3 separate regions of the Homo sapiens genome follow, and all the other regions are linked to region 1. The links come from fine-mapping of genetic effects on gene expression. A gene starts in region 1. Each other region holds a variant in brackets. All regions are shown on one strand. Distances are between the middles of the regions.

Region 1 (10,075 bases):
CTCCCACCCTCCTGGGGGCCTGGTATTCCCATGCCTGGAGGCGCCTGTGCACGGGGGCCCTTGTTAAGTCCTGCTCTGCAGGTGACACAAGTGAGAACGGGGACAGAACCCACAGGGCCTGCGGGAAGCCCCGGCTCTGAGTGCACCCGGAAACAAGGCTGGCACTGAGGGGTCTTCAGAGACATGTCGCACGAAGACCCTTCCGTGGCCTCCCGGCCTGCCACGTGGCTGCCCCAAGAGAAAAGATGGCTCCCCAGTGCCATATTTCCCTCGCAGAAATGAGTCTTTCCACCTTTTCGGCAGAAAAATAAATGTTTTGCTCACGTTGTTAGGGTAGCCAAGTGTTTTCAAAATATTTTCAAAACATAGCACTCAGGACTCCTCACAGGACAGCCCTGCCTGCTAAGGTTGCGTGAACGCGCTCCCCAGTTGAGTGGGTGCCAGGGATTCCAGGGCAGCGCCGTCGGCCTGAGAACCGCCACCCCACACGGTTCCCAGGTGCGCCCACACCCGCCCACGCCTGCCCGGGCACGATGGAGACGCCCACAGACCACACCTGGCCAGCACAGGGAGGGGGCTCCAGGCTCCACCCAGGGTTACAGCACAGGGTTGGGGGGTGGCATGGAGGGATGGAGACACAGAGAGACAGAGATGGAGATGGAGGTGGAGAAATGGGGACAGAGAGGCCAAGAAAGACAGAGACTGAGAGAGAGAGGCAGGGAGAGACAGAGACCAAGAGGCTGAAAGATACAGAGACAGAGAGAAGCTGAGAGATACACAGGCACACAGAGAGACAAAGTTGCCAAGAGAGACACGGAAAGGAACTGGAGAGAGATGGAGAGACTCTGAGATGCCGGGAGGGTAGAGATAGAGAGAGAGGCAGAGAGACAGCAGCACTGGGCACGCAGGGCACTCGGTGTTTTGAGGCCTTCATGACCAGCCCCAGTGAACTCCACACACCATGGCACACGGAGGATGAAGGATTAATGAAGGATCGTGAATGCATATTAATCGATTAAAGAGACAGGGGTTAGTGATGATTTAATGACTCATCCATCATTAATTAAGTGGTGGCCTCATTTATCATTAATTAATGATGAATGGTGATTGTTAGTGACTAATGATGAGGAAGATGGAAGGTTGATTGACAAGCTCAAGGCGGCCTGGAGCAGCCTGGGGAGGGGGTTCTGTGAGCGCCACACGGGAGAGGGGGGTTAAGTTCCAAGGAGGGGCTGGGGGGGCTTCCGGTGGTTGCCAGAATTACCTTCTTCTTCGTACTGCTCTGCATTGGGACAGAACAAAGAGGGGAACCACGTTAGAAGGGGCAGCCCGTGAAGGGAGGAGGAGGATGAGAGGCCAGTGTGTCCCGGCCCTGGACAGGCCAGCGACTGCCCCTGCCCAAGAGCGTGGAATCAGGGGTCCTCGGGCCCTGAGGAGGCGCTGGGGAAGGCAGAGGCTCTGGTGATGATGGTGGCTTTTGGGGGGCTCGGGGGTCCTGGATGCCCACGTCCCACAGTGGGCATGAGAGAAGCAGAGAGACAGGACCCAGAGCCTGACCTGCAGGCCCCTCAGGACCATGTGGCCACACTTCGGGGAAAAGACGAGGCCCCCCACTTGGACAGCTGTTTTCCGGGGGTCACTCAGAAGCCACCCATGGGATGCAGCTGATGTAGGGCTGTCAAGGGGACACAGGGTATGCACAGTCCAGCCCCCTGCCCACATGTGAGCCTTCCTTCTAGAGCAGGAAGTAGAAAGAAAATGGCTGTTACACTTACCCTCCACCTGTTCACTGTGGGGCAGGGAGAGAGAGAGAAAGAAAGAGAGAGAGGTAGTGAGGCTGGGCTTTGCTTGGACTTGTGCAAGATAGCGCATGCTCCAGCCCCACAGAAGCCAAGGGGCCAGGGTCCCGAGCCAGGCAGGGGGCAGCCACCAGCTGGGTACTCACACTTCCTCGTCAGACATGGTGAAGGTGGGTGGTTTCTGCAGAGAGAGATTCAGAGAGAGAGAGAGAGAGAGGATGGAAAGAGAGTTACGAGCTGCCTGGGTGTAGGATGGGGGATGGGGTCTTGGAGCAGCGCTGTGGGGGACCGCGGGCAGGGTTTGGGGGCCAGCTCTGGCCTTGGGTGAGTCCACCTCCTTGGGCCTCCCCTTTCTCCAGGGCTCCTGGCCCCTCCCAGCTCTTGGCGCCCCAGACTCTGTCCCCTCTTCCTGCCCTGGCTCCAGACTGGAGCTTGGAATCTTGGAGCTGGAAGGGATGTTGGAAGGTCGTGGCGTCCACCCCCACCCAGGGCAGACATCCTCTCCGTGGCGTCCCCTGAGGAGGGTCATCCAGAATGCAGGCCGTGTGCCGTCCAGCCCGCTCTAGACACTGGAAAGGTCCCGCTGATGGAGCTGAAACCTGTCTCTGGGTGTTCTCTGCCCAGTGGGTGTAGGTGGGGTCTCCCTGGGAGCCCCTGGATGACCGAGACTGGCTCCCCAAGATGAGTAATCTGCTCACCCTACCATTCCCCATGAGAACCCCTCTTCCCTATTTGAGCCCAAAGCTCCCTTCTGTGCCTGTTTTCCTATGGGGTGCCCAGAGTGTGTCCCACCACACCCCTCTGAGGACCCCTCCTCCAAGATCACAGAGCAGGGAAGCTGTTCCTTCTTGTTACCCCTGTACCCTGAAAACATTGAGGCTGAGCCCCAGAGCACGTTGGGTTGGGTCTGGGCCGCTTCCCGTGCACCCCCCCGGGCCGGGCTCTGTACAAGGCATACTTGGACTGCAGGAGCCCACAGAACAGCCCCCCCATTTCCCTCCCTGTGGCCGCTTTCCCTGGTCCCGGGGATGCTCTGGATCTGTCCCTGTCTAGGGGAAGCTCCATGCCCAGGACTGGCTGCCCTGTCCATGTGCGGTGGTGGCGCCAGGCCAGCATGCTGGGGACCGTCTCTCTGTGAGCTGGCCACCGTGCACACTGGGCGGCCAGGCCTGGGGAGGCTCTGAGCAGCTGCACCGGCATGTTGGCCAGGGTTTTAGAAAACAAAGTTCATTACAACACAGTACAGATTACTCGAAGACAATAGCTACGGTCCCCCCTGGGAGTGTTGTATAAGGAAAACACACGTTCATCAGCTAAAAATGCATCTACGTTGCACTGCTGAGGTGGGAACCGTTTTCCAAACCCTCTGTCAAGAATGTTAATTTTCCCAGAGCAACTTAAGCTCCATGCAAAATTACCCAGCAGATAGCTGTCTTCCAGGCAACGGGGGTAGCTTTTTCCTATCCCAGAATCTCTTCCTGAGACTCTGCTGCCCCTCAGGTTAAGCCTCTTGTAACTGCCACGGCTGGGCCAGGCTCTCCTCAGTCCTCAGCCCCACGAGCCAGTGTTGTCCAGGCCCCCGGTGTGACCCAGTCCCAGGCTGCCCACCAGCCCCTCGTGCTGTCCTCCCAGCTGGTTCAGGCCCCAAACGCCACAGACTCCTCTAGGGCCATCCTCTGTAAGGAGGAGGAGGGTCAGTGAAGGGAGGGAGCGGAGCCTGGCCCCGCCCTGCTGTGCCCAGCCCGACGCTGGCGGGGCAGACACCTGTCGGCTGCCACAAGATGGGGGCAGCGTGGCCCTCGCCTGGGGTGGGTTATTTATAAGGAGCCAGTGGCAGCTGAGGTGTCCAGAAATAGGCAAGACGTTTCTGCCCAGAAACCCAAGACGTGGGTGAGGCGGGTGTGACAGCCCAGCCCTCCTTGGCCCACAGCTGCCCCCTCACCCTCGGGCACCCAGGCCCTCCCCAGCTCCTCATATTTCCCTCCTGTCCCCCCAGGCCAGAGTCACATGGGTGCCCCAACACCCTCAGGCAGGGTGACCTCCAGGCCCCCCGACGTGCGCTGGAAAGGCCCACTCTCCAAGTGGGGAAACTGAGGCACCTGGTTTTCTGCTGAGCGCCTGGAAGCAACACAAGGCTGTTCTGTTCCCCCCAGTATGGCCTGTGTCATTGCCTCTGTTGCGGGGAGGGGCTGGTGGCAGGGGTGTGCTGGGGGCAGGGGTGTGCTGGGGGCAGGGGATGGCATTTCAACAGCTGAGACGCAAAGCAGGTGTCCAGTTAGTGCCTGCCTTGGAGGGGCTGCGTGAAAATAACCTATGCGGTCAGTTTCTTCGGGCACGTATGCATCACCTTTCCCTCCTTGGGAGGTGACGGGGCCAGGGCAGGGTGGGGAGGCAAAAGCCGCTGCCCCTTGCTTGCTGTGGCCCTGACCATGCCCCCAGACCTGTTCTCCACCCAGCCAACCTTTGCTTTGCCCCATGTCCCTCCGTGGACTTCAGGAGGGGCAGCCAAGGCCTGATCAGACGGCACAAGTCAGGGGGACCGTGTCCAGGGCAGGGAGGGTGGGTGGGGGCTCTTACGAGCGCCAGCTTCTCCAGCCTCCAGCCAGGGGGACGCGATGAAGCCCAGCCCCTCACTCTTGCCCCGTCCTGCCCCAGTCCAGCCCCTGTCCACTTCTGTCCTGCACCTCCAGACGCTGGCCCCCAAGGCTGCGTGGGCTTTAGACGCCCCCACCCCAACACACTCGGGCTGGCCATACAGGAGCCCCTGCCCTCCTGTCCTCGTTTTCATCTCTACAAAATGGCGGTGTTGGAGGCCCAGGTGCGAGAGCTGCATGGCAAGGCCAGGACGGGCCTGGGCAAATGTCTGCATGGCGACCACAAGCTGGCAACCTAAGCCCTGGCAGCACCCCTGCACAGCCTCTTCCCTGCCGCTCACAGCCCGCACCTCTCTGCCTCCTGCCCTCAGGCCACTCCCTAGCACTGAGCTTCCCTGAGCCCCGACTTGCCCCCTCCTGGCCTCCCACACTCTGCCTTCTTCTGCATCCTCCCGGTGCTGAGACCATCACACCACCATGTCCGCATCCCAGACTCTCCGGACGCTGGAGCAGCCACCTGGGGGCTCCGAGCCATGATGCTTCGAGATGCTCGGCACCACACGGACCTGGGACCTCAGCGCCCCAGGACCCCAGAGTGTCCCTGGAACGAGGGGCTGTCCACCCGCACGCAGGAGGCCCCGTCGGCCCCAGTCCTGGGTGGCCGCTCCTGCCTATACCCACCTGCGGGTCGAGTGTGAGAAGGGCTGGAGCTCCCTGTGGACAGCACCGGCTGCAGGCACTGGCGCCCGGCTCACACCCTCGTGTTATAGTGACATTTGATCTTCCTAGGAGCCCATTGGCCAGTGACTGGGTGGCCGGGGTGTGTGCGGAGTCTTGCTGGGGGGGGCTATGCCCGTGCAGGCCCCTTACCAAGTATAGGAATGGCCAGAGGAGGAGGCTGAAGGAGGCCAGGATGCAGAGGACGTGCTTGGAGAAGGAGGCAAGGTCCTCCCTCCGCCTCCAGGAGGTGTCAGCTGCTATTTTTACTCCCAGCAGCGGGTACATTCTGGATGGGCTGAGGAGGGAGGAGGAAGGTGTTGGGTGGCCCCGGGGCACCAAGCCGAGGCTCTCTTTGGGCCAAACTAGTGTGGGGGTCCCCAGAGCCAGGCTGCCGGGTTTCCCACCCCCCCGCCCCTTCTCTCTGAGATGTTCTGTGGGAGTAAACATTTGTCCAGGAAAAGGGTCCGCACAGCCGGGGTCCCCTCCCGCCGCCCGGCCCAATGCCCCAGGCCCTTCGCTGTCTCCCCCGGGGAGGAAGCAGCCTGAGGCCTCGGAGACCCCCCATGGAACTGAGGCCAGGCCCCCACCCTATCTGAGACCCTCTTAGAGGCCAGCTCTGCTTTCCTGGCTAGACACCGTTGGGGCCTACACAATAAGCGGGCGAGGGACATGGCCAGGCTGGCTGCAGTCCGAGTCTGCCATACCTCCCCCCGGGGCTGCTGCCATTGCAGGGGGCTACACATGGAGTTTGCTGGGTAAGGGTCTGGGTCCTCCCTCTAGGCCCTTTCTAACCCTGGGGCCCCACCCTGGGCACTCGCAGTGGCCGTTACCATCTGTGCCAGCATCTCCCACAGGCTCATTGTGGCGTGTGGAGACTGGTTTTCTTTCCTCAGGACTCCAGGTGGCACCGTCCGACTAGCAGACATCCTTCCTGGCCTCTGATGGCCTGTATGCTGGCCAGTGAGGCCACCAGATTGGATAACCCTGCCTCTTGGATCAGGGAAACTGAGGCACCAGGTGGGGGAGAGCAGTCTGGCACCCTGACCCACCCCCTCACTCCCCTCAGACCCCACAGGCTGAGCGTGGGCGGTGGTGTCTGCGGAACTCTTCGGTTCAGGCACAGATTGGTTCCTTCTTGGCCAGCGCCCAGGACAGGGGTGAGTCCCGAGAGGCACAGATGAGGTCCCTGTCCTCCCCAGGCTTAGAGTCAGGGACAACAGGATAACCCGGCAGGGGCTCACAGTGCCCTGGGGCCGGGTCGGGGGCCTTCCGGAAGGCTGTGGTTGGCACCTCATTCCACCCCTCCATGGAAGAGCGAGGCCGCAGAGCCCAGGGACAGGCAAGGTGTGCCTGGGGTCACACGACAAGGCGGGCTGGCCCCAGGCTGCCATTTCAAAGGACAGGGCCGGTCCCCTGCCTGCCTCCCGCTGAGTGCCCGGCACTGGGAAGGCTCTTGGAGCTGGGGTTGCTGGGAACGTCGCCGTCCTCCTGCTCTGGGTCTGTGGCTTCGTCTGCATTCCACGCCTTCCCCTCCCTGTCCATGTCCTCGATGGGCAAGGCTTTGGGGGCCACAAACAGCCCTGGCCCCTGGATATCTGTGACCAGCTTCCTGCCCACTGGGGACATCTGCAGAACTGCTCCCTCAGAGGCACGTGAGCGGGTCCCTGGGGGTCAGCGGGCCCACCCCATCCTCTCCCATGGTGGGGCCAACCTCCTTTTCCAGGCTCGCTCTGCCGGCTTCTCTAACGGAGCCCTGAGCCCACCATTCTGGTTACACGTGGTTCAGTCTGCAGGCCTAGGAAGCCTGTGCCCACCCAAGCCCTCACCCAGGCCAGGGGTCCTGAGGGGCGCACCTGAAGGTGGGTGTGCCATAACCCTGCACTGGCCCCGTGTGGCCAGCAGGGGAAGGTGCTGCCCGCCCAGCTCCTGGAGCTTTGGCAGGCGCTCTCCGCCCAGCCAGCTGAGGTCAGAGGGATAGGGCAGGTTTTATTTTGGGTATCGGCGACCTCCCCCTCGGGCGCTGGGCCTGAGGCGTAGCAGGGACTGCACAGAGCAGGCACCAGCGGCCTCGAGGGCCTGCACCAGGTAACCCATGCCCTGCTGCCATCTGGCCGGACCGGGATGGTCCAAGGAGAGGAGGCAGGGCAGGGGCCTCCTGGGGGACTGTAGACCTGGGTGGGGGCAGGGCACAAGGGAGGCCCAGCCTGGGTTGGGGACGCATTTCCACCCAGGAGGAGTCTGAGGACGGACCACGGGGCCTTGGCTCTAGGGCAGTTGTTGGGGGATGGGGGGGTTCTGAAATTGGCAAATGCTGAGCCAAGCCCAGGGAGTGGGGAGCAGGCTGTGGGAGGGAGGATGGCCTCCTGAGTGTCTTGGCTGCAGCTCCCTGCCTGGGTGGCCCCCAGATGGTGGCCGGGGCCCCTCAATCTAGGTCCCAGCACCCAGTGCGCATGGTTGGGGGTGGTGGAGACCAAGAGGGTCCTGAGCCTCTCCTCATGCCCTGAGCTGACCTGAGCCCCCAGGCTGGATCCAGCCTGAGGCCGCTCGGCCCAGCTGTGGGCTCAATCACTGCCAGGCCCAGGACAGGAGCAGCTGACACAGCACTTGGGAACTGAGCTGCTCCAGCCCTAGGTAGCTGCCTCCCCACATGCCTAGTGCTTCTGATTTTGCAGTTTCATTGACTCGTTCTGCAGATATGATGGGTGTCTTCTCTGTGGCTGGCCTAGGGGCTTGTAGCAAGGGTCACAGGGTGTCTGGTGGCTGCTCTGGCAGGCAGGACAGAGGCTAGGGGCTTCATCTGCCATCCCTGGCCAGGGGCCTCTTAGGCTGCAGGCCTTTTGAGCCTCCTGACCTCCGCATTGGGCATGGCCTGACCTCCAGGTTTCCAGGAGCAGGGGCATGGGGTTGCTGTGGCCGTGGACGGGAGGCTGCATCAGAAACACAGCAGGGCTGTGGCTGGGTAGAGCTCAGAGGGACAGGCCCTGGGTCCTTGTTCTCGAGGCTGAGCCGAGGGGTGCAGATGATCTGACAAGGGGCCAGGGCTGGTCGGGGGCGGGGTGGGCAGTGGCTGCCTCCTCAGCACTGCTGACCCCAACTACCCCCTGCCCCTGGTGCTGTCCACTCTGCACCCCAGTGCTGAGTGCCCAACTGTGGCCTTTGGGCCTGCCTCTCGGCTGCCCTTGGTCACCGTCCCAAGCGGATCAGGTGGGAAACAAGGGGAGTGCTGTCACTGGGTGGTTCCCCAGCTGGGGAGGGTGGCCTGGATCCTCTCTCAGTGGCTGGGGCATCTGAGAAAGGATGGGGGCACGTCACCTCCCTTGTGTGGGTGGTGGCTCTGTCGAGGTTTTGCTTTTCTGAACTGTGTGTATTCATGAGGCAAGCAGGGTTTGACATGAAGCCTTCAGAAAATAGTGGCTGTGAGGACCCAAGGGAATGGCAAAGTGAAGTCCAGAACATCAGAGTCTGGGGTGCTGCTCCTCGAAGGGACTTCCCAGACGCTGAAGGCTGCAGGGCTGAGTGTCAGGGCCCAGTGCAAGACCTGGGAGAGGAGGGACAGGAGGGAGGGTGTCCCCAGGCTGTCTGCTATTTCACACAGTTGTCCATTCATCCACCCATCTATTCATTCCCATGCATTCACTCTCACCTTCACCACTTCCTTTCCTTCCTTCCTCCCTCCTTCTCTTCCATCATCCATCCCTCCGTCTGTCCATCCTTTCAACCACCCATACAATCACCTACCCATCCACTCATCCCTCCATTTCATCTATCCCTCCCGCCATCCATCCATCCATCCATCATTAGTCTATCCATCCATTCATCCACCCACCTATCCATCTATCTACCCATCCATCTACCTGTCTATCCATCCATCCATCCATCTCTTCATCTATCCATCTACCCATTCATGCATCCATCCATCCCTCCCTCCCTCCCTTCATCCACCCTCCCTTCATCCATCCATCCCTCCCTCCATCCATCCATCCACACATCCACTCATCACCCCAACACACACACCTCCCCACAACACACACACACACAGAAACATCACCCCCCCAAAACACACACACATAACATCACCCCCCACAACACACACACACAGAAACATCACCCCGCACACACACACATACAAATAATATCCCCCCCAACACATGCACACACAGAAACATCACCCCCCACAACACACACACACACAGAAACATCCCAGGTGTGTGACCCCACAACACACACAAAGAAACATCATCTGAGGTGTGTGACCCCACAACACATACACACACACGCAGAAACATCATCCCAGGTGCGTGACCGCACAACATACACACACAGACACACACACACAGAAACATCATCCCACGTGTGTGACCCCACAACACACAGACACACACATACAGAAACATCATCTCAGATGTCCTATCCCACAACACACACACAGAGAATAACATCATCCCCAGGGATGTGATCCCAGAACACACACACATAGCAATATCATCCCTAAGTGTGTACACCCCACAAGACACACACACACACAGAGAAACATCATCCCAGTTGTGTGGCCCCAGAACACACACACACACACACACACACACAGAAACATCATCCCAGGTGTGTGACCCCACAAAACACACAGACACAGAGAAACATCCCAGGTGTGTGACCCCATAACACATACACACACACACTCACAAACATCATCCGTGTGTCCCCACAACACACACACAGAGAAATATCATCCCCAGGTTTGTACACCCAACACACACATACACAAACATCATCCCCAGGTGTGTGACCTCACAACACACACACAGACACACACAGAGCAACATCATCCCAGGTGTGTGACCTCACAACACACACACACACACACACACACACAGAAACATCTCCAGGTTTGTACACCCACAACACACACAGAGCAACATCTCCCCAGGTGTGTACACCCCACAACCCACACACACAAAGACACAG
Region 2 (7,862 bases), 52 kb after region 1:
AGCGTGCACCAGGGTGACTATAGCCCAGGCCTGCCTGCCACACACACCCCGTCCCAAAGGTGCCAACACCAGCCAGACAGACCCCAACTCTACCAGCGTGCGCCAGGGTGACTACAGCCCAGGCCTGCCCGCCACACACCCCCCCTCCCAAAAGTGCCCACGCCAGCCAGACAGACCCCAACTCTACCAGCGTGCGCCAGGGTGACTACAGCCCAGGCCTGCCTGCCACACACACCCCGTCCCAAAAGTGCCCACGCCAGCCGGACAGACCCCAACTCTACCAGCACGGGCTGGGGTGACTACAGCCCAGGCCTGCCCGCCACACACACCCCCCTCCCAAAGGTGCCCACGCCAGCCGGACAGACCCCCAAGTCTACCCAGACACCCAACAGGAGGGGTGCCCGTGCAGCGGCAGACAGCGCTGACCAAAGGGCATCTATGACCCTGGAAACCTCATGGTGTGGCCTCCGCAGAGCCGCAAGCCTTGGCCCCCTGCTGAGACTGGAAAATGGAGCCTGGTTTCCCCCAACCCCTCTACCCCTGGCTTCCCATTGGTCCTCAGAGGCTGGGTCAGGGACCGTCCTCAGAGCAGGGTCCAGAACCGGCTTGATGTCCTGCTGACCAGCCCATCACCTCCCTTGCGCTGGGTGCCCTACCTCTTTTGATGTGCTCTGTGGTCAGCCCTGTGCCGGCAGCACCCTTGTCCCGCTCTGCAGCTGTTTCACATCTCTGCCCCCATCTGCGGCGACCAGCCTGGGTCGGAGGTTAGGGCCCCGCCCTGCTCGTGGGTGGCCCTGCCTGCTGCATCCCGGCGGCGTGGCTGCGGCTCTGCCTGCCCCGTGCCTGCTCTTTCTTCCCCCCTCCTCCTGTTCTGCGTGCTGTGCATATGGCTTTCTGTCTTCCTCCGTGTCACTAACCACAACGCTGCCGAGCCCGTGCCACGAGCGAGGCGACCTGCGGGACCTTTCTGGGGCCCTCGCCTGCACTCCGCGATCAGCGTCCTCCGCCGCAGCTCTCACCCTCGCATGCGTCTACATGCAGCCCCACTCGGTGCCTGCTTCCCGCAGGAGGGGACCAAGGAGCCCTGATACCTACAGGTCCACCGACAGCCCGGCTGCGCCTCCCGCCTTTGCTCGACGGCCCTCGGGAGCGCTGCGGCGCCTGGGCCAGCTGGGACTGCCCTGGCAGAGCTCTTGCCGTGCTCACGAGGCAGGCTTTTGGCACGTTCTGGGACACGCAACCAGTCCCTGGCAACGGCTCGAGGCTCTGCCATCCTCTTTCCTTCCCAGCTAGCCATGCCCAGATGTACCTCACATCCCTGAAGTCTCTGCCCACAGATGCTGCCCGAAGCGCTCCCATCCTCCACGCAACCAGAGGCTTCATACATTATTCAGACGTGGTGCCCACCTGGGCGGGAGCCACAGCCGGCACCCAGAGAGAAGGACCAAGCCAGCCTGGCATTCAACCACCTGCTCCACTCCCACAGCACCGGGATCTTCCTACCGTAGCACCCAGCAGCCAGGCCCTCTTCCTGACACCCCCACACCATGTCTGCCTGTGGAGCTCTGGGGTGCCCGGCCTGGCCACCGGCCCCTCCCCGAAGCTTTCATGGCTGACCAGCCCCTCCCAGACTCATCATCCCTGGGGGTGCAGGGAAGACATGGCAGAGCAGAAAAGAGTCTGCCCCTGGGCCGGCACTTCTTTCCCAGGAGACTCCCCGGTGTATGTCCCCGGGTGCTGCGGGCACCCCCTGCCAAGCCCCAGGATGGGAGTAAGCTTTGGTGCCTCCCTGAGCCTCAGCTTTCCTGTTTGCAAAATGGGGTATGAAGGACCAGCTTCAGTGGGCCGTGGGAGACTCACATGGCCTTGGGATGTCCTCATGGCTGAGGTCAAGTGGACCGGCCTTGGTCCTCTGCACCAGAGGTCCAGACATCCCCGTTTAAAGAGGCACAGTGAGCACCAGTGCAGCCAGCGCCTCCGTCCTCACAATGGTCGCCAGGGGCGCAGTCCTATCATCCCCATTACAGATGCACAAACGGAGGCTCGGAGGTGCACCTCTCACGTCTCACGCAGGGGTCCCAGGGAGCTGATGACGTGGCTGGGGCTCCAACCCCTCAACCCCCAAGAACCGGGTGTGGGGAAGACCAGGCAGGGACAGAGGCCAGAAGAGGTGCTGCTCCTGAATGTGAGTGGAGGGTCCTGACCCAGGGGGTCCCAGTCCGGGTGCAGAAATTCATTTCTCAGTCTCGGGGAAAACCAGCCCCCCCCACGCCCCCTCCTCTGTGGGGCGCCCCATTTTCCTCGCCCG[C/T]CCTCTCCTTGGCAAGCTCGCCAGCCCTCGCCTGGCCTCACTGCGTTCCTCCAGCATCCATTTCTCGCTTCTTTGATCTTCCTCCTACCGCCCGTCTTTGGAGCACCAAGAAGCTGTGTGAGACAGCGGCTCTGAGCCTTCTGCCCCGGCACCTGCTAGGTGCGGCCCACGTGGGAGAGACCCCTCCTCCCACACCTGGGGTCGGCGGCAAGGGGCAGTGCCCGGGACCCTCACACAGCTTCCATTCGCACCTCAGCCCCTCCCTCTGCCCTTCCCATCCTGCCACCACCCTGCACCCGCTTCTGCTCCCCCTCCCTCCTCCTTCAAGGCAGCCCCTGCTCTCCCTCCCTCTCAGCATTTTTCCCTCCCTTTCTCTCATTTCTTTCTCGTGCCTTCGCTTTCTTTCTTTCTTTTCTCTGTCACTTCTCCCCAGGTAGGGTTTGTTCTCGTCAAGAGACCCTCACAGCCCCAGGCACAGGGTTGCCCCCCTCCCAGCATCCCTGGCCAGGCCCGGCCCTCAATCTCACCTCCGCAAGCACCACCTCAGCTCGCACCAATACCTCCCCAACCCGTCATGGGTAGCAGCCGACCCTCAAGCCTCCCGGGTCTCAGCCCACTTGGAGCCTGGGGCAGGGGCCAAGCCCCTCACCCTTCTCCCTAATGGTCCCCGCCCCATCCAGGGGTCACCCAAGGGCTTCTCTCCCACAAGCTCCCACTTGCAGTGGCTCCTGTCTGCCCTCCAGAGACCTCTGTGGTTAACCCCAGTCCACCGACCTCTGCCAAGCCGCTCTGAGCCGGATGCTCAGTCCCCGGGGCCATGCTCCCTCTGGCCTCAGGGTGCCTCCCCTTTACGGTTCCAGCAGGGGCATCTGGGGGTCGAGTGCCCAGGGCACCCTGGCTGCCGCTTGCTGGCCGCTCTGCCCAGCTCTGGTTCGCCGGCTGGGACTGAAGCCTGAACCGCCGTCCTCTGGGCTCTGGCCCTGACACCCTGCCCAGGGGGCTGGGCCACTCGGTCCCTGCACCCCTGCTGCTGGCTCGCCTGGGCTTCTGGGCAGGACGGGCTCTGTCCGAAGACCGACTTCCAGCCCTGCCAGGGCGGGGGCTACCCCACCCTCAGGATCTCAGGCCTGGATGGGCCCAAGGCAGCCACACCCTTTTGGACACTGTGGTTGGAGGCCTGGCTTCCCCCAGCCCCCTCAGGGCCAGCCCAGCAGGCTGCCAGCCCATTCCTGCCCCACTGGCCACATCAGGAGCCCCAGAGGTCCCTGGACCAGGCTGCTCAGGGTGGGTCCCTGCCTGAGGGGCCTTAGAGCCCTGCGGAGAGCCAAGCACGGTGTGGCTGCCACATCTGTATATGTGTGGGCAGATGTGTGCCCGAGATGGAGGGAATGGAGGGGCTCACACCGCCCAAAGAGCCATGGCTAAGGGTGGGCACGGGGCTCCGGGGACCTCAATGCTTGATAAGAACGTCTGCCAGGCTGATCCCCAGCCCCCCTCTTCACTCCGGGCCAGGCTACAAGGCACTCTCAGCCGGCCTGGTGCCCTCTCACAAAGCCAGGACCCCACAGGTAGCAGGGCCAGGCCGCTGGCTGAGTCCGGGTGACGTCTGGAGTTGAGTGGGCTGAAGTCCTCTTGAGGTCCCCTGACCATCCCTAACACTTGCCTTGCCCGAGCTGGCCCTGGGAGAGCCCCGAGTTGCCCAGGGGCAGGCAGGAGGCACAGGGCAGACTCCCAGGTGCCTGGAAGGGCAGACTTGGCAGGGAGGCATTGGGGGTAGGTCAGCCCAGGGCCTGACCCTGCCAGCCAGAAGCCGCATTCTGGCAGGGGCTGGGTACAGCCAGACCTGGAGAAAATGGTGTTATGGGACTACATGCAGAGCCCCTGGGCTTGCACTGGGTGTAGACAAGGAGAATCGCTGGGGCAGGGGTGGGGGGCGACGGGGCAGGGGGGACACGTTTTCCCACTGGCCCAGAGCACCATTTTTAATGGATGTAAACTGCATTGAATTTATTCCCTGGCAGCTGCGGGCACCTAGCATGGCCCTTCAGGGTTCATCACTGAGGACACAGCACTTTGCCTGCAATGCCTCTCCCAGCCCTGCACCTGACATGGCAGGACACCCAAGGGGTCCCCGGGAAAGGGGTGGGGTGATGCGGGTGGAGGAGGGACCCAGGGACCCGGGCTCATCATGCCCGGCTGAGTGGCCTTGAAGTCTCTTCACCCACAGCTTCTCTGAGCCTGGCTCACTCCTTTATCCAACAGGGAGTGGGTAGGGGGCAGTCTGCCTGGCCTGCAGGGCTGGGACTGGGGAAGTCCGAGCTGTTGGAGGCTGCAGAGAAGAGATCATGGCAGTGGTGGTGAGCGCAGTACTGTCCCGGGTGGTCGTGTGTGTGTGCATGTGTGTGTGTGGGTGTGGTGGGTGGGTGGGGTGCAGCGGCCTCTGGGTCTGTGTCCTGGAGGGGGTGTGTATTAGTGCACACGTGTCAGCCTTGCTTCATGTAGCTCACCTTGGTGGCTCCCCTTAGCTGGACAAGGGACTCTTGCTGCCCTCTGCCCAGCCCCCATCAGGACAAGTTCCAAGGGAGTTCAAAGGGACGGGTCCTTATGCCACCAACCCACTGGCTGACCACCGCAAGTGAGGTCCCCTCCTCACTGTCTCCTCCCCAGGTCCACAGGGACTGGCCCCGAGCCTGAGCCCACGCGGCTTCAGTGCCTCCTCCCCAGGTCCACAGGGACTGGCCCTGAGCCTGGGCCCACGCGGCTTCAGTGTCTCCTCCCCAGGTCCACAGGGACTGGCCCCGAGCCTGGGCCCACACGGTTTCAGTGCCTCCTGAGTGCGGCTTGCTCACCTGGGGCTGCAGTTGGTGCTGGGCCCGCTGGACGGATGCTCATGGCCGAGCCCCTGGTGACAAGGGGGTGAGCCACCGCACAGCCAGGCAGGGGCTCTGCCCCTCCTCCGGGGGCTGCACTTCCTTCTCTTGGGCCCATTTGTTAAGTAGCACTGGTGAGCCTGGGGGATTGACCCCAGGCACTCCTCAAATCCCAGGCCACAGAGCTCCTGGTGGACAGCAGCGTCCCCTGGGAAAACACATTCCCGTTGGGCAGGGAGGGAGGTCTGACCAGCAGAGCCTGGAAGCCCAGGAGGAGGAGGCTTATGGGGGGCCAGGGGTAGGGGGAGGCTGGGATGAGGTGTGCCCAGCCAGGGGCCCACTGCAGATCCTGGTGCTGGTCCTGAACTCAGGTGACAGCCGGAGACCCTGCCAGGTGGGGACCAGATCGGAGCCATCTCTCTGCATCTGCACGGACCCAACAAGTGGGAGCTGGGGAGGAGGGGTGAGCCGGGCTGCCCTCAACTCCTCAGACCCCACTTAGCTCACCCCCATGGGCATCCCTGGCTCTCTGGCCTCTCAGAGTCTCAGCACTGAGTGCCTGGCCTGGGTGGGCAGTGGCAAGCCGACCGATGCCAGCCCTGCCTTCCAGTAGCTCGAGGTCCGGCCAGCATGCTCCATGCCATCAAAGGAAGTCAGAGCAGGACAGCCCTCCAGGTTAGGAAGAAGCAAGGCAGCCTTCAAGCAGGAGGTGGTGTTTCAGTTTGGCTTAAAAGCCTGGAAGGGTTGAGGAGGAGAAAGGGCACTACAGGCGGCTCAGAGTGGCTGACGGTGCAGAGGGATATCTCTGAGACTGCCCAGGCTGGGTCTTGAGGAGCCTTGGGCCCTCCAAACTCTGCTCTCCCACCTGACCCCATGAAGGGCCACACCACTACTTTACAGAGGAAGAAACAGGCTGGGAGAGGGCACCACACTGGCCCAACACCTGCAGGTGGACAAGGCCCGGGCACCTTCCCTGGCCCTGAGGAGCCTCCCACTCAGGGTTGGTGGCTGCAGCCAGGGCCGGTAAGCTCAGCCCAAAGTTCAGTTTCATGATCTGTGAAGTGAGGGTGACTGAAGGGTGCCCAGGATCCGAAGGACCCCACGGGAGGCCCCAGAAGCCACCCAGAGGATGGGCCCTTCATTTTGGGGGCTCAGAGTCAAGCAGAATCCCTGGGGCTCGGGGAGAGGTGTGAGCAGGTGACAGTGCAGCCGGCGGTGCAGGTGGGACGGCGTGAGCGGGTGACAGTGCAGTCGGTGGTGCAGGTGGGATGGTGTGAATGGGTGACAGTGCAGCCGGCGGTGCAGGTGGGACGGTGTGAGCGGGTGACAGTGCAGCCGGCGGTGCGGGTGGGACGGTGTGAGCAGGCGACAGCGCAGCCGGCAGTGCAGGTGGGATGGGGAAGGAGAATGCATGGGCAGCTGCCAGGAGCCAGGAGGAAGAGAGGCCTCAAGCAGCCTCCGCACTCACACATGTACACGCAACCAGCCTGGCACCCTCTCGCTGCCCACGCTTGGGGCAGCAGAGCCTACCGAAGCTGGGGGGAGGCCCAGTGGCCCGGTGCATGTGGCAGCCCAGCATGGGCACCCTGCCCTGCCCTCCATGCCCAGCCAGGGCAGGAGGGACCTACCTCAAGAGGTATCCAGGCCCTGTCTGCTAGAGTTCCTCCTCAGAAGCCCGGGACTGCCCAGGCTGCAGCCTCTGCTCAGGCGGCGACCTGGCCTGACCCCAGCCCCGGGGATAGAGCAGCATCTCAAAGGCTCCTGTCCTGCTGGCCCTCCTCTCTGCTGCCCTCCTCCCGCACCCCTGCCCCCCTGTGCCCAGCTCTCCTTGGCTTTCCTGCCTCTCCTGGCCCCTCTCACTCCTGCACTTCCTTGGCGCTCTGCCCTGGCCCTCGGTCTCTCGCTGGCTGTCACCCCTCCCCTGTCCCTTCTCTCTGTCTGGTGTTCTCCTTGTCCCTGTGACCCTCTGCCTGCCTGTCTTGGCCCCTCTGGCCCCTGGCACAGGAGTCTGTGGGCCGGCTCCCTTGGGCAGCCTGGTCCCTCCCTCTGGCACCTGGCACAGGGGTCTGTGGGCAGCCTGGTCCCTCCCTTCGGCTCCTGGCACGAGGGTCTGCAGGCCGGCTCCCTGCAGGCAGCCTGGTCCCTGTGTCCCCATCCCTGTGGGTCTCCCTGACTGTGGGTCTCCCTTTCCCCTCTCCTACTTCAGGACTCTCAGCAGCTGCTTCTCTTTTGTTTCCCCCAGCCCCCTTCTCCTCCCGCCTCCATCTCTTCCACCTCCACCTCCTCCTCCTTCCGAGAAGAGTAAAAATGTCAGAGCGAAAACTCTCCCAGCCCAGCAGCGTGGGGCTCAGCCAGACCTCTGTGGCGCGCTGATGGGCAGCGTGGCTGCCTCCTTCCCTCCCTCCCTCCCTTCCTCTTTCCCTTCCTCCCTCCGCCTCTGCCCTCAGGCCACCTTGGTAGCCGCTGCCCGCTTCTCGGTCTCCCCTAGCCCTCTGTGGTGCCCCTGCCCCAGGCACAGGGGCCTATTCTGCCCATCGCCGCCTCCCACCTCGGAGTGCCTCATGCCCTCTGCCAGGCCCTGCCCGGGCCCTCCTCTGTTCTTCTCCTTCGTCGGCCGTTCTTGTCCAGCCCCTCGTCAACCTGCCACCTCCCTCACCATCATCGCAGGCCTGGACCCTTCGCTG
Region 3 (10,075 bases), 40 kb after region 1:
CTGGCATTGGTTACATGGTGAGCCATTCATTGGATAGATGAGTATTGGTTGGATGGAGGGTATTGGTCAGATGGAGAAGCATTGATGGATGGAGGAGAATTGATTGGATGGGAGGGACATTGATTGGATGGAGGGACATTGGATGCAGAGGCACTGATTGGATGGAGTAGTATTGGATGGAGGGATGAATCTTGATTGGATGGAGGGGCACTGATTGGATTAAGGAGTACTGGTTGGATAAAGGGGGATTGATTGACTGGAGGAATATTGGCTGGATAGAGGAGCATTGATAGGATGAAAGAGCATTGATTGGGTGGTGGAGTACTGTTCCGAGGGGGGCATTGATTGAATGGAGGAACACTGAATAATTGGAGGAGTATTGGTTGCAGGAGTATTGGTTGTATAAAGGAACATTAATTGGATGCAGAAGCATTGATAGGATGGGAGATTATTGGTTGGATGGAGTAGCATTGATTGAAAGGGGGGGCATTGATTACATGGAGTGACATTGATTAGATGGAGGGGCATTGATTGGGTAGAGGGGCACTGACTGGATGGAGAAGCATTGGTTGGATAGGGTGTTGGTTGAATAAGGCGGCACTGATTGGATGGAAGGGCGTTGGTTGGATGAAGGAATGGTGCCAGGATGCAGGAGGGACCTGACAGCAGAGGGGAGCCAGGTCATACCTCGATGGCCTGGGTGTATTGTTCCAGCCACTGATCAATCTTGGAGATGGGCAAGTCTGGCTGGGATTTCTTCACACTGTTACTGGAGGGTAGAAGATGTGTCAGGCCCCATGTCTCCCACAAGGCTTCTCCCAACCTGCCCAAGCCTCTCCCAGAGCCCCCCTCGGTCTCCAGATCTCTACCTTGTGACTCCCTTCAACCCCCACTTGGTTAAACCTAAGATCTGAGCCCAGAAAGCAGACAGACAGACAGACAGACCTCTTCTCTATGGAGCGGTTTAGGGACTCGGTCCTGTCGATGAGCTGCAGAGGGTGGAGAGAGACACAGGCCTGCAGCAGCCGAGGTAAAGCCCACCCTCCATCTCCCCAGCTACTCCAACCACTAATCCAACCCCCAACCCTTATATCATGGGGGTTCGCTGAGCACCGGGCAATGGGGGGATAGCAGACAAAAGCCAGGCCTGGGCCTGGTCTTCCTGTGGCTGGCATGTGGGATTGGCCTTTTGGGTATGAGTACGGGAGAGGGGAGAAGATGGCAGGCTTTGCAGCTTAACTTACTTTGGTGGTAGGGCTCAGGGGAGGCGAGCTCTGTTCGATGGTCCCCTCCAAGACCAAGGGGCTGGGTGTCCTGGGCTGCTGACATTTCTGGTGCTAGAAAAAAAAAAACAGACATCCCAAGTGACCCCCTGCTTGTGCCCCTCCTGCCCTGCCCAGCACCTGTGGGAACAAATGCTGTTCCTTCCTGAGCCCCAGGTTCTCTGTGGCCCTGACGTGCTCCAGTTCTGGAGCTGGTGGGGAGGGACTGAGGAGTCTGGAGAGATGTCTCCGGATCTTGCAAGAGGATCACTGAGCCTTGCCCTCTCTGAGAATGTGGGCCCAGAAGGGGCTGCAAGGTCTAGGGGTGTGGGGTGCTGACCCACTCTGGGCTAGACCCACAGGGCCCACAGAGTGGTGCAGACAGCCAAGGCAGACTCATCCCTGGGGTGGGGGTACACCCAGACCCTCTGAGGTGGAGCCATCACCTCCTCCTGTTCCTCCTCAGCCCCTGCGGCCCCCAGGTTGTCCTGGACAGTGTCCTCTGGGCCTGGCCCCTCCTTGCTCAGACTCAACTCCTCCAGGTGGACTTCATCACTGTCCTCCTTTTCGTAGGCATGCAGGCCGGGCCTGTGGGTGGAAAGGGAGGCAAAGCCGTTCTAGGGCCATTGGATTGCTTGGTTGACCCCTTCCTTTTTCCAAGCCTCAGTTTCCCCATCTGTAAAATGAAGGTAGTCAGGCTACTTGAGTGCCAAGGGATCTGAGACCCAAGCCCATTGGGAAAGAAGGTCCAGTGGCCTCAGAGCCAGCGCAGTCTGCTTGGGCCCCTGTGTCAGGGCCTGAGGCCCCTGGGGAACTGCCCAGTCCCTGCCAGACAGGGCTCTACAGACTGAGGGTCCCCCAGGCACTGAGGCTGGGTTCAATCCCCAGCTTTGTGGCTGGGCCTCAGCTTGGCAGCTGCTTGCACACCCGGTTGGTCTGACGGGGTCCCCGCGAGGCCGGGCTGCTGGGGCCACCACTCCTGCTCTGCTCCCTGTGGGGGCCCTTGGGTGTTTGGGGGACTGGAGGCTGGGTCATTTGGAGGGCTAGGCAGGGGTAGGGGCCAGGTCACTGAGGAGCAGGGCCAAGGGGCTGCCGGCTGCGGGGGAGGGGAGGCCAGCCAGCTGGCAGCTTTGAGCGGCTCTGCATTTGAGCAGGACTGAACCTGGAGGAGAAGATGGGAAATTCTCGAATTTTCCATGATTTCAGGCCCCTGGGTGTGCGTGCCAGCCAAGACCCAGACCCACCCGCCCAAGGTGGGCAGGGGTCTGAGCCAGCAGCAGCCACACAGAGGGGCCATTCAGGAGCAGGTCTGTGCAGCCAGGCAGGTGCAGGGGGTGGGGTGGCGGCCGCAGAGCTGGGCTCCACGGAAGAGTCAAAGCGCCCCCTGCTGGTGGGAGCAGCCTCGCCCGCCTAGGCCTGAGGCCAAGGGAGAAGGGAGCTGCCCCATCTCAGAAAAGCAGAGCCGCTGACTCCCAAGCACGTAGGGGGGAGACTGAGGCCCAGGGAGGGGGGCGGTGGGCACTGCGCCAGGCCAGGACCAGTGGTTCTTGGGGAGTGGGAGCCTGGTTGTAGGAGGACAAGGGAGCGTCGCTCAGCAACACTGGTCCCTAGAGCTCCAGGCTGGTTTAGGGCCTCAGAGGGGCCAGGAAGGACCCTGACCAGGGAGAACTGTCAGCCCAGCCATGGGCTCTGGTCCCACTCAAGGCAAGGGGGTCCTGAGCAGGGCTGGGGTCCCAGATGGCCCAGGCCCTGCAGGGCGGGTGGGGTCAGCCCCATCATGGCCACAGATGACTGAGAGCGGCAAGGACCCCGAGCAGGGGTAGTGAAGTGGGGCTCGGGAGCAGCCCCTGTTGGGCCTGTTGGGGTTGAGACAGGCACACACATCCCCACATCTGGAAAGTGCGTCCTCCCGGCCGACTCTCCGGCATGCACATCTGGAAATACCTGCTCCCCTCCGTGGGAATGGAGATCAGCCAGCCCCGAGGGAGGAAGGGGCGGCGGCGGGCTCTCAGCCTCCATTACGGAAGCGGCCGCAGCTGTGTGCTGATGTGGCAGCACCCGGCCTGGCCTCGCAGCTGCCTGGATGGGGCCCAGGGGCCCTGGGGAGCCCCAGAATGAGGTTTCCTCGCGGCCCCTCGCCGGCCACCATGCTGTCTCGCCCTCTTCCTCCCTCCCCTCCTGTCTCCCCCTTTCCTGGCCATGGGGGCATTTCAGGCTCTGCTTGGAAAGGGGAGGATGGGGTGGCTGCTCAGGCGCAGGTTGAGGGCCTGAAGGGAGCTCCGCGGTGCCCTGCTCTGCCCAGCGCCCGCCCTCGAGGTCCAGAGGGAGCCCTGCTCTGCCCAGCGCCCGCCCTCGAGGTCCAGAGGGAGCCCTGCTCTGCCCAGCGCCCGCCCTCGAGGCCCTCACTCACCTGTCCTCTTGCTCCCCCTCAGGACTCCTGCACTGGGGGGGCTCTCCGCTGTCCAAGGCGCCCTGCGCCCCCTCGTGCTGCTGCCGCTGCTCTGGCCTCTGGGACCAGTCGCCAAAGCCCTCGTCCTCATCCAGTTCAGGGGCCTCCGAGGGCTTCAGGCTGAGGCTGAGGGTAGCAGGGGGGAGCTTAGGCCTGGGCGGCTGCTGCCTCCTCTGCCCAGGGCCCACACTCACCTCACGGCGCCCGCTCAGGCCCTGGACTCCAAGTGTGGGAGACCCTGTCTGCCACAGAGCTGGCTCTGGGCTGTGTCTCCTGTGGTCAGAATACCTGAGGGCAGGGCTATGCCTCCCCCGTCAGTTCTGGGGCAGCCTGAGAACTGTGCTTCCTCCATCAGTCCAGGACTCCTTGAGGCTCAGCAGGGCTATGCCTCCTCCATCAGCCTGGGGCTACCTGAGGGCAGGGCTATGCCTCCCTCATCAGTTTGGGGCTCCCTGAGGGTAAGGCTGTGCCTCTTCGATCAGTGTAGGGCTCCCTGAGGACAGGGCTGTGCCTCCCCTGTCAGCCTGTGGCTCCCTAAGAGCAGGGCTGTGCCTCCCCCATCACTCTGGGACTCGCTAGGGCAGGGCTGGGCCTCCCCCGTCAGCCTGTGGCTCCCTAACAGCAGGGCTGTGCTTCCCCCATCAGTCTGGGGCTCCCTAGGGCAGGGCTGTGCCTCCCCCATCATCCTGGGGCTCCCCAAGGGCTGCCCTGGTCCCCACATGAGGACCCTACATGAGGTCCTCCTAAGCCCCGACTTCTCAGGCCTCCCATGTGGCAGGGGGAGCCCCTGGATAGCTGGGGCCCTTGGTGGGGGTGGCCAAGGGCCTGACTATGGTGACCGCTGAACCCCACTCTGCCCAAGGCTGCTGACTTGGAGAAAATGGAACAAAAGAGGCCAGAAGGAAGGGAAGCATTATTGGAAAAACAGCCCAGCCCAGCCGCGGAGGCCTCCTGGGCCCAAGGAGGAAGCAAGCCAGCCTGGCCGCCAAGTTGGACGTGGCTCTGTGAGTCACTGGCGGGGGAGTCTGGTGGGGGGCTCGGCCAGGCTGCGTGGCTGGGGTCAGAGGCGGTCCGAGCAAGGGCCAGGGCACGGACACAGAGCCTGGGTCAGCGCCCAGGAGGCAGCCAGGTATTGGCAGACCCTCCTCTAGGGCTGTGGCCACCCTCGCCCCAGGAGCACTCACCCACTCCCACGCCTGCTCCTGGGGGCCCTTCCTCGCTCTCATCCTGCACTGGAACCCCCAAGCCCAGGCCCTTGACCTCCCCCTCTGCCCAGGCCCCAGGGTACACGGATAGGGGCTAGAGCCCAGGCACGCGTTA[T/G]GGGGCTGCTCACAGCATCTCCTGCTTCGGCCGCTCGGGGACATGGCCGCCTCCCTCCTCGTCCTGGGCCTGAAGCTGCCTGTCTCTCTCATGCTGGCATTGCTCGTGGACGGCCTCCTCCTCGTCCTCCACGCTCCACTGAGCAGTGGGCCTAGTGGGGGACACAGAGGGACAGTCACGCCACAGCCGACACAGGTGCTGTTTTGCACCCATTCCTCCCATCTACACAGGCCTTGCTGGGGCCACACGGTGCAGGCAGCCCTGTCCACGAGGTCAGTCCCAGGCCGGCCCTCAGGCCTCACCTTGTCCATCTTTAAATAGAGGCTGCCCACGTGGTCATGAGGTGCCCTCTGGCCCAGGCGAGGGTCCTGGGGCCCTGTGAGGATCTGGGCACCCCTGTGCCCTGTGGGGATGAAGGTGGGACTCCAAGGCCCATTCAAGCCTGAAGAAACTCAAGGACAGGACAAAAGGCCCTCTGTCCCCCTCTCCCAGCCTGCCTCCCTCCCTAAGTAGAACCAGGACCTAGACCCAGGTGACCCTGGAGGGCCCAGGAAGAAGATACTGGAGTCCAGGGAGACTGGCCGCAGCCCACCGCCAGGCGGCACCTCCACCCCACCTGCGGGTGCTCCCTCCTGCACCCCAAAGGCAGGGCGTGTTGGAGAAAGGGGAGGTCGAAGGCTGAGGAAAGGAGGGCCTGAGCACGTCCAGGCAGGACACCTCCTGTCCCACCACCAGCCCCGCTCACAGAAGCTCCGCAGACTCATGGGTCCTGCCTGGGCCTAACCCCATAGCTGGGGGCACCTTACAGGGTCGGCTCACCCAACCCCACCCCATCCTTATTTCAGAGCCCTCTGCGGAGTCTCTCTGAGCTGTTTCTTTTGTTTGTTTGTTTGAGACGGAGTTTCACTCTTGTTGCCCAGGCTGGAGTGCAATGGTGTGATCTGGGCTCACCACAACCTCCGCCTCCTGGGTTCAAGCGATTCTCCTGCCTCAGCCTCCTGAGTAGCTGGGATTACAGGCATGCACCACCATACCCGGCTAATTTTGTATTTTTTAGTAGAGACAGGGTTTCTCCATGTTGGTCAGGCTGGTCCTGAACTCCCGACCTCAGGTGATCCGCCCGCCTCAGCCTCCCAAGGTGGTGGGATTACAGGGATGAGCCACCGCACCCAGCCGATTGAGCCATTTCAAAAATGGGGAAACTGAGGTAAGGGAGTGCTTCTGCCCTCAGAGCCTGAAACCATGGCTTCTTGGGGTCCCACGCGCCCCCCTCAGGGACAGAGGTAGGCACAGGCTGGCCTGGACCTGGGCATCAGAGCCCCGGCCCAGCAGCTCTCAGATGGTCCAGGTCCTGCAGACACCGCAGCCTCAGCTGTCATGGCCCTGCCTCCCATCGCCCTCCTAGAGCCTGAGAGGGGGTCCAGGGTCTCTACACTCCTACAGGGCTTATTATCCCAGACCCAGGGAGGGAGCCCAGGCCAGAACAGGGAGCAGGGCTGGGGTCTCCCCACTGGGGTCTCAGTTCTTCCCGGCCAGTGGCCGCTGCCTGACCCTGCAGCCTGATCCCCACTGGGCCCCAGTCCCCTGGCCAGACAGCCCTGCCAGCGCGTGATCTAATCTCTCCTAGGTCTCCCCTAAGCCTCTCAGACAAAAGCCAGGCCCTTCCACAGGCCCGAGTTCAAGGCCCACTCCCCCCACCGAAGCCACAGGGGACTCCAGCCACGCAAACCCAGCCGCCTGTGCACCCCGCCCCCCGCGCCCCCGAATCCGCCTGCCTGTCCTGCTCCTCAGAAGTGCCTTCAACTCCCGGCCCCCGAGGAAGCCACTTAATTCCCCACACCTGGCTCCCATCATCCGGGCAGATGAGGCCCAGCTTCCCGCTTCTGCCGGCCTCCGCATGGCTGGGGGCTGCTGGGCCTTGTTCCACCTGAGGAGGCAGAGCCTGGGGCGCAGGGGCCCTCGTGCTCACTCACGCCCCAGCCCCTCCACACAGAGGGCGGCGCAGGCTGGGGCAGAGTGTTGAGGAGGTGGAGGGGTTCCATGGAGGGGAAGCCTGGCCATATTGCTCCCCGTGTTCCCATGTCCCAGCCCCTCCATGTGAGCAAGGGCTTAGCTGGGGTGTGTGTCCCTGGGCCTGGGGCATGAGAGGGAGCCCATGCTCCTCCTTGGACCTGGGCTTCCGATGGGTCCAGGGCCCTCACTCCAGCTCCACAGACCCCCTCCACCAAGCCATAGGGGAGGCGGGGCTTGGAAGTACACATTGGCGCAGAGACCCCAGAAGCTCGTGTGCACACGTTTCCTCAGGTCCACCCCTATGGGCAAGCAGTCCGGGCCCCAACAGCCCCACAAAGGCCCTCACTCTGCTCACAGCTCATGCCCAACACATGGAGTGCGGCCGGGCGCAGGACTCCCTAGGCCTGGGGCACACGCAGGTGCACACCCAACTCACACACGTTCTCCACGAGCCCACGCTCCAGCCACACAGGCATACATGCCCGCACCCCATGCACATACAAGTATGCACGTGCTCACACACGGGAACCTTTGACATCCACGTGCGTGTGCAGACAGGCTTGGGAACAAGGGGACCACGTCCCCCTCCAGGGATCCCTTCAGGGTGCCGCAGCCTCACTTTAGTGAGGCAAACGTTGACTGTTTGCCTTGCCATTGCCCCGACAACGGCGGTGCCGGCCCTGGCACGAGGCCCAGGTGTGTACTCTGGGAACATCGTCCCTGCAGAGCTGGGCCCCTGGAGGATCACTCCGACTGAGCTCTCCCTGGCTAGGGGCCTGGGGGACAGAGTAGGGGATGCAGAGTAAGCATCTCCTGGTGTCTCCCCTAAAACCCAGTGCTGGGGAGAAGCCCGGCCAGCCCCTGGCCTCTGACCCAGCAGCCTGAGGACGTGGAGGCCTCTGGGCCCCTTCTACGTCTCCTCCCTTTCCCCTACCCCAGGATATGAGTCATGCGGGCCCCCTCCCCATGACCTCACCCCCTCACTATTCCACAGCTGGGCTCCGTTCTGGGAACTGAAAGGGGGGCAGCTCTCCTGGGGTGGGGTGGGGGCCTCTGGCCTGGGAAAGGCGCCCCCCGGCCAGCGGCCCAGGCCCCTTGGCATGCACCACGGAGCTGTCAGGACTCTGGGATGGCCGACCCCGCCCGTGGCCCTGGCTCAGCCCCGTGCAGCTGCGAGGGATTTGGTGTTCCTGCACAAATGCAATTAGGCGATTTCCTGTGTCTGTTCTGGCTCCGAAGCCCAAGGTTCAGCCCAAGGGGCCAGGCGGTGGGGGGGCTCCATCCACCTCCCACCCCAGCACACCCCCGCACCCTCACAGTCCCAGGCTCCACTTCGGGGCCTGGCCCCCAGCCAGGGACACCAGTATGCACAGAACTCTGACGGATGCCTCGTTCGGAGTGGAGCTCCCCAAGCTCAGGTCTGTTCCTGCCGGCCTCATCCACTGCCAAGCACCCCCCGACTCGGGACGCTGGCCCTTCTTCTCCTTCCTCCACAAACCCCCACCCCCACTTCTACCTCCCAGTCCCCGCTGAGGGCCTGACAATGCCCATCCTCGGCCCAGCACTCCCAGCTACCCACCTCCGTCCTCCCCCTGCAGACACTTGCAGAATGGGTGTCCGGCTCGGTCCCCGTCCCGACTCTGCCCCCTGCAGGCAGCTCCTGTGGCTGCCCCACCCGGCTGTCCTGAGCCCAGAGGGCGGCTGGAGAGGGTCCGTCCTCTCTGGGGTCCTGGGGAGTGAGGAGGCTCTGGTGAAGAGCAAGGGCTGCGGGGAGGATGTCGAGGGGAGGGGGAGCTTCTCCTCCAGGCCTGACCACAGGTCCCTTGGACACCACAGGGAGCTGGCAGGAGGCCTGGGGAGCTGGGCTGGGCCTTCCACCAGGGTGGTTCGGGGCTCCCTGCACAGCACTGAGGTCTCTGGTCCCCTCATGAGCCCAGCCTCCCCTGGGGTCCTAGACTTGACCCCTCAAGTCACTGCAGAGCCCAAGAGTGGAGAGACACAGCACCGTGTGCCGGGAAAAGGTGCCCACAGGGGCCCTCCGTGGCTGAGGCTTCCAGAGGGTAGTGGGACAGCAACCCCGCTCCCCGCCAGCCGCCCACCACAGCGTTCATGATACAGCTTCGGAGTGTGTGTCGGGGCCTATCTGGGAAGCCAGGGCAAAGGCGGTGGCAGCTGGCAGCACCCACACCCACAGCTGGGGCACTGCTCACATGAGCCCCCATCAGCAGGCCCCTTGGTTGTGCCACACGCAGGGGTCCTGCCCCAGGGAGGGGGCAGTCCAGGGAGGGGCTCGAGGGTGTGGCACAGGCCAGCTGTCACTCCTCCCTGGAGAGGCAGCTGGGGACGCAGCTGGGAGGGGAGCCAGGAGCAGAGACAGCCCGGGGCCAGCAGGTGGGTGACAGGTGGGGCAGCGGGAGGGGCATGCGCCGTCCGCCTGGGGCTCGGGCGTAGAGACGGGAACCTGCCCCCCAACGCCTGGTGCTGGCCCAGCCTCCCCCCCGGGGCCTCTAGCACCTTCCCGGTTGTGGCTGCACCCTGCTGGGCATGGCAGGGGAGGGTGGGGGTCAACCCCTTTCCTTGTAGTCCCACGCCAGTGGGCAAGGGAGACGCCGCAGTGAGCAGGACCCTAGCCTCTCTGCCTGGGGAGGCCGAGTGATGAGCCGCCCGGAGCAGGAGGAGGCCTTGAACTTGGGTCTGAAAGATGAGCAGGGATTTGCTGGACTGGGTGCAGGCAAGAGCTAATGCAGGAAGGCAGAGAGCAGGATTGCTCAGAGGGAGTGGCTCTGTGCAGCTGGAGCCGGATGGGTGACCCTCACTCAGGAGGAAGCACTGGGACCCTCTCTGCACGCGCTGGGTCCCCCGCCTCCTGTTAGGATCCCCACACCCAGGTCCTTCTGGGCCTCTGCTGCACAGATCAGGTCTGGAAGGCTCCCTGGAGGAGGCAGCGCCTGGACTTGGACATCGGCCTGCAGAGCTGGCTTCCCTCACAACCCTGGGAAGACAGAACTCCTCAGCGGGTTGATGGGGGGGA

The links. PIP is the estimated chance that this variant, and not a neighbour inherited with it, causes the effect. A credible set is the group of variants that fine-mapping cannot tell apart.
Region 2: its variant is the best candidate, but not a certain one, in a credible set for the expression of TNNT3 in ileum (GTEx, PIP 0.54).
Region 3: its variant is the best candidate, but not a certain one, in a credible set for the expression of TNNT3 in CD4 T cells (Kasela 2017, PIP 0.64).

The regions. Positions count from the first base shown.
Region 1 is chr11:1,914,762-1,924,836 of GRCh38, reverse strand. It overlaps TNNT3 (troponin T3, fast skeletal type), which reads right to left and starts at 5,134. Exons shown (of 16, transcript NM_006757.4): 1 at 5,075-5,134; 2 at 1,946-1,980; 3 at 1,776-1,789; 4 at 1,265-1,282. The coding sequence starts at 1,962. It also overlaps a transcript of PRR33 not described here. RefSeq lists an enhancer at 7,767-7,816 and a silencer at 8,367-8,416.
Region 2 is chr11:1,864,207-1,872,068 of GRCh38, reverse strand. All of the region lies in intron 1 of LSP1 (lymphocyte specific protein 1), which reads right to left. Among named protein-coding and RNA genes, the nearest start is that of MIR4298, 8.6 kb to the right of the region's middle. RefSeq lists enhancers at 392-929, 930-1,468. The variant C/T (reference allele first, on the strand shown) is at 2,309.
Region 3 is chr11:1,875,194-1,885,268 of GRCh38, reverse strand. LSP1 (lymphocyte specific protein 1) reads right to left here. Exons shown (of 11, transcript NM_002339.3): 2 at 5,045-5,182; 3 at 3,673-3,837; 4 at 1,709-1,850; 5 at 1,245-1,337; 6 at 946-989; 7 at 688-769. It overlaps MIR7847 (microRNA 7847), which reads right to left and starts at 5,224; the gene lies at 5,122-5,224. RefSeq lists enhancers at 3,040-3,249, 7,929-8,825, 8,826-9,722. The variant T/G (reference allele first, on the strand shown) is at 5,032.